Linked DNA regions of Homo sapiens: region 1 is linked to region 2. The links come from fine-mapping of genetic effects on gene expression. Tissue or cell type: whole blood. Region 2 holds a variant in brackets; the other region holds the start of a gene. All regions are shown on one strand. Distances are from middle to middle.

Region 1 (2,911 bases), 45 kb after region 2:
ACCCAATATTGACCCTTCTGCGTTCCATCTTCTAAAAATGCCTCAAATGTCCCGCCCCCTTGACTCCACTTTTTCTCAGTTTCCAACCCTGTTGATTTCCATTATGCTTTTAATATATCTTTGCTGCTATTTTAATAGAATTTTGAGCATGTGTTCAATCCACTATCTTGAATGGAAAGTTTCTAAAGTGGCCTGTGACTCAGGAAGAAGACTGTGATTAATGGGCGAGAATGAAAATCATTGCTCAATCCCTTGACTTAAATCCCCACCACAACACCTGACCTACAAAACCTGCCCATACTTGAATATTCCAAGTGATGCAGCATTCACTACTCAAAATATTAGCTGGTGTACATATTACAGACCCAGCATCTCTCCCTCTAGTTGACCATGACCTCTGAAATTCACACTCTGATCCTATCTATTTCCTTTCAGTTACCGTGCAGATGTCAGGAAGCACTTGTTAAGACTATTACCTGAAGTGTACTCAGAGGCAGAGTAAATGCTGGGTCCCGGAGCAGACAGGAGAGAGGACCTGGGAGTTTTTTAGTAAGATGGGGAGGAGGAGATAGGCTATGGCTTGGACCAGGCCTGGAAGAGAGCTCAGGTGTGCAGTCTCTAGGAACCCGGGTGGAGAAGCAGCAGGAAATAAGCAGAAAAAGGAGACAGGCCATGAAGATAGAAGCGCAATGGTCCTGGATTCAAATCTCCACTCTGCAGCTTATAGCTTACAGTCCGCTTAGCTTTGTGCCCATTCCAAGAGGATTTCCCTATTGTAGCTTTACAATGTTTTAATATGTAGTATTGTTGTGCAAGGTACCATCCTAAACTGACTGACTTTCCTTCCTCCTTCTCCTCCAAAATAATTTTTAATTCTTGCAGACAGACTTTAGATCGTGTGTTTGAAGTTTTTAAAGATGGAATTTTTATTGGAACTGCATTACACGTATAAATTATTTAGGAAGAGTTGGCTTCTGAAGAGGGCAGCTCTGTGGGCTTGGGCTGGGTTTGAATCCAGCCAGACAACTTTCCAGCTGTGTTACCTTGGACAGTTACCTAGTTCCTCTGTACCTTGACTTCCTCATCTGTCAAATGGGTGATGATAATAGCACCTACACCATGGTCGTTGGGAGGAGTCAGTGAGAGTCTCCAAGTGTGCTTTATTATCGTTGGTGGTGGTAGTGGTGTTTAGAACGCATCCCTCAGTCAGACAGCGAGGTAGGACTTCTCCGTTTATTAAATCCTGACCTTTTTTTTCCATGTAAAACCTGCACGTTTCTGAAATGCTCAGAGTACGTTACTCAGTATGTACCCATATGTTCTGTGGGTATACTTTGTTAGGTTGTGATTAGTTCGTTGGAGCTGGTGGTTGCAGGGACGGCTGGAAGCAAGGAGATGAAGGAGAGGAAGTCGTAGCTGGGAAGGGGACCAGGAAGTGGGTGTCAGGTCCAAGAGCTGCTAGAAAGAAACGAAACTGAAAGCAGGGAATTTCCCAAGTTTGGGGAAGACAGGAACTGCAGCGCCCCTCCCCGTTTCACGCCACGCGCGGGACCGAGGACCTAGGACCTGGCCAGCTGGGCGTGGTTCGGAGAGCCGGGCGGGAAAACGAAACCAGAAATCCGAAGGCCGCGCCAGAGCCCTGCTTCCCCTTGCACCTGCGCCGGGCGGCCATGGACTTGTACAGCACCCCGGCCGCTGCGCTGGACAGGTTCGTGGCCAGAAGGCTGCAGCCGCGGAAGGAGTTCGTAGAGAAGGCGCGGCGCGCTCTGGGCGCCCTGGCCGCTGCCCTGAGGGAGCGCGGGGGCCGCCTCGGTGCTGCTGCCCCGCGGGTGCTGAAAACTGTCAAGGTGAGGTCCCACCTCGGGGTCTTTATGTGTCCAAAGGGGAGTCCTGGGAGGACGCTTAAGCCTCACATAGGCTTACGGTGGGGGTGGCTTTATCCGCTTGTGCACCTCATTCATTTCTTTAACAAATACTTCCAATGTGCCAGCCCCGTGCTAACTCCCCCGAACATACGAGCCAGGTAGGTACTCTTAAGCCCGCTTGACAGATAGAGAAAATGAGGCACAGAGAGGTACAGTGACGTGTCCGATCCTGTAAGAGGCCCAGCCAGGATTCAAATCCAAGTAGCCTGATTCCTGCATCTCTACTCTCAGAGGCTGCTTCTTATCCATTCATTCACTCATTCACTCATTCTCCCAGTCATTCAAACAGACTGTGGGCCTCACACTATGCCAGACCTTAAGGTTACAGAAGTAATAACACTCCGCGTAACAGCCAGAGTAGCCCAATTTATTGAGACATTATCAAATAACAATGAAAATTATCTCATTAAATGAGTATTACCTCATTTCATCCCCACGTTCAGTGAGGCAGGTATTATTGTACCTGTTTTATGGATAGGGAAACTGAGGCTAGACGCTAAATTACTACTCTGAGTCACATCTTTTTTTTTTTTTTTTTTTTTTTTTTTTTTTGAGACAGGGTCTCGCTCTGTCACCCAGGCTGGAGTGCAGTAGCATGATCTTGGCTCACAGCAACCTCCGCCTCCTGGGCTCAAGTTATTCTCACACCTCAGCCTCCCAAGTAGCTGGCACTACAGGTGCACACTACCATGCCTGGCTAATTATTTGCATTTTTTGTAGAGATAGAGTTTTGCCGTGTTGCCCAGGCTGGCCTGGAACTCCTGGGCTCAAGTGATCCACTTGCCTTGGCCTTTCAAAGTGCTGGGATTACAGGTGTGAGCCACCATGCCCAGGTAATTTTTGCATTTTTTGTAGAGACGGGATTTCACCATGTTGCCCAGGCTCCGGGTCACTTTTTGTCACTTAAATACAGCCACACTGCCACTGTGATCCCAGGACACTCGCAGATTCAGGGAGGAGACAAGTCATGAGCTACCTTATCCTCA
Region 2 (2,911 bases):
GGGGTCTGTTCCAGCAATCTCATCATGGAGAATAAAAGGGACTCTGTTATCTGTGTTAGTCCAGATCCTCTGAGAAGAAGATGCCAAAATAGGATTAAGCAGACAAGGGGTTTATCAGGGGAAATGCCCATTCCAGGAAGTCTGCAGGGAGTCAGGGGAGAAAGGGAGAGATGTTAGACTACAATGCAAGTCTGACCTGAGTGAGGGGACTAGATAGAGAAGTTGGAGGGAAGCATTCCAGATACAAGTTCAGTAAGGCCACCAGGGAGTCCTCAAGCCAAAACTGGCCATCAGACATGTCCTGTATCTCATAGGAGTGGGCCGACCTTAGCATCCCTGCCAGGCCCAGTCATTGGCTGGGAGCATGGCCTTGGCACAAATATGTCATGGACTTCCAAGCACTGCATCCAGGGCCTTGGTCAGTTACGCTTCCTGTAGCTGGAGGTCTGCCAGGTGCAATCTCATAGCCACCGCTGTGTCAGACATCAGGCCCTATTCTCATCTCTGCCAGCTGCTGGCTGTGGACTCTAAGCAAGTTATTTAGCTTCTCATTCAGTTTCTTCATTGGTAAAATGGAGACAAGAGTTCCACTTATCTCCAAGGTGGGCTTAAGGCTCAAATGAGATAGCACAAAGAAAGCAAACAGAATCGAGCCTGGTACAGAAATGTTTAGCACCTCAGTAGAATTCTGCTGGCCTTGGGGCAGCAACATGTATGTTTCTGTGGATGTGGATCTCCATGGAGCATGGAGTCTCCAGTATGCTCTAGCTATGTGACCTGGGGCTCATAGCTTAACATCTCTAGGCCTCAGTGTGCTCATCTGCAAAATGGACAGAGTAATACTGTAATACTGTATATTAGTTCAGGTCCTCCAAGAAGGAAACACCAAGAGAAGATACAGGTGTGCCTGTAGAGGAGATAAGGAGGAATCCAGAGGGGACCCATAGAGACCACAGACCTTGCTACAGGTATGACCCCTGTGGAGCAGAGAAGGAAGGAAGTTTGGGTAGAAACAATCTTAGGCTACAGTGCAGCTCCAAGGAAGCTGCACTATTTCATCCAAGGTGATGGAGAATCCTTGAGCACAGTCACCCATCAGAGGAGTCCTGCATTTCCCAGAAATGGGGCTGCCTAGTGTCCCTGCTAGCGTCAGTTATTGGCTAAGAACACTTGTGGGAAGCGTGGCTTCAGCAAGAACATCATGAATACAGAGCCCAGTAGCTTGTTCATCA[G/A]TTTTACCCCCTGCAACTGGAGAATGCAGGCTGAGAGGTACATTTTCAAGGGGTCTGGTACACAGTAAATGCTAATAAATACCTGCCATTATGGTTATAAATAACCACCATCACTGTCCTTACTCATGGCAGAGAGTATTTACTAATATCCCCTCCAGTTGGGAGACACTCCCCCCACCTCCACTGCCTCTGATAACAGAAAGCAATACTTCCCTTTAGTCCATGGCCAAAGAACAGATCCATGTGGGCTGTCTTTCACATTTCCTTTGAATGAAGATTTAGTTAACAAAGAACACACAGGTCAGGGACAAGTTTGGTTTCTAAGAGTAATTTGATTTTATTTCCTCGTATGACCCAAGAGAGGAAATGAGCTCAAGGGGTGCTGTCCAGCACTCCATTAGAGGTCAGCCATGTGCAGATTGGTTTTCTTAAATAATTCTCTCTACCACCCCCTCCCCCACCTACCCAATCCTTCCAGAAGAAGTAGAATTGCCGTGGTCACTACTGAAGCAGCTGACCTGCTGGGTGCAGTTATGGGAGAAAAAATGGGAGACCACTAAGCAGTTTCTGATCAAATAAAGATTTTTTAAAAGCCAGAACTTCCCATTATTTTTGCTTAGCTCTTTGGTAACTTCTAATTCCTCATTTTTGTCTCTTCTTAAAAATTATCCTCAAAACCACTTCTGTAGATGAGAATGAAATGTTCGCCCTCTTTACAGGTCAAGAAACAGAGGCACGGTAAAGTTACGCTCATGTTTAAAGTTGCTCCGCTGGTGACAACCTGAATCAGAATCCAAATGTCCCAGCCCTTAGGAGTGTTTAGCCCATTGTGTTTACTCACCCAGGAAATATTTTGTTTTGTTTGGTTTGTGTTTTGTTCTCTCTCTCTTTTTTAAGAGACAGGGTCTCGCTCTATTGCCCAGGCTGTAGTGCAGTGGTGTGATCATAGCTCACTGCAGCCTCGAACTCTGGGGCTCAAGAGATCCTTCCACCTCAGCTTCCTGAGTACCTGGGACTGAAGGCATACATCACTGTGCCCAGATAATTTTTGTTATTTTTTATAGAGACAGGCTCTCGCTATGTTGCCCAGGCCGGTCTGGAACTCCTGGGCTCAAGTGATCCTCCCGCTTTGGCCTCCTAAAGTGCAGAGATTACAGGCACGAGCCACCATACGCAGCCTCACCCAGAAAATATTGATTGAGTACCTACTATGTGCCAGACACTGGGCCTCACTGGAAAAGAGCCCTGTAGGCAGAAGAAACAGTTTGCTCAAAGGCCCTTGGGTGGAAAGGAGAAGTAAGGAGTGGGGTGAGGAGGATGGCATAAGGTTAGGTTGGGATGGAGCAGAAACCCAACACACACGGTCTTAAGGCCACATGAAGGATTTTGAACTCTCCCCTGAGTTTAAAAGGAACCCAGTACACAGTTTTGAGAAGTGGAGTGACAATAATCAGATTTGCATCTTCCCCTTTCTGTGCATACACCCAGCCTCTCTCTAGGGATTGGGGGCAGCCTAAGGTGGGATAGATGGTAAAATGCCAGGCACCACCAGCCATGGCCATCAATTTGACTTATGGGGAGAAAGTGAGCATGCTAAGAACACAGACTCTAGATGCAACATCTGGATTCAATCCCAGCTGTGTGAGCTAGGGCACACTTCTGCCTCTCTGGATCTCAGT

The links. PIP is the estimated chance that this variant, and not a neighbour inherited with it, causes the effect.
Region 1: it holds the start of OAS3, and the variant in region 2 is the best candidate, but not a certain one, in a credible set for the expression of OAS3 in whole blood (TOPMed, PIP 0.87).

The regions. Positions count from the first base shown.
Region 1 is chr12:112,936,861-112,939,771 of GRCh38, forward strand. It overlaps OAS3 (2'-5'-oligoadenylate synthetase 3), which reads left to right and starts at 1,614. Exons shown (of 16, transcript NM_006187.4): 1 at 1,614-1,847. The coding sequence starts at 1,671. RefSeq lists enhancers at 1,233-1,402, 1,297-1,606, 1,570-1,739, 2,163-2,332 and a silencer at 1,827-1,916.
Region 2 is chr12:112,891,418-112,894,328 of GRCh38, forward strand. All of the region lies in intron 19 of RPH3A (rabphilin 3A), which reads left to right. Among named protein-coding and RNA genes, the nearest start is that of OAS1, 14 kb to the right of the region's middle. The variant G/A (reference allele first, on the strand shown) is at 1,233.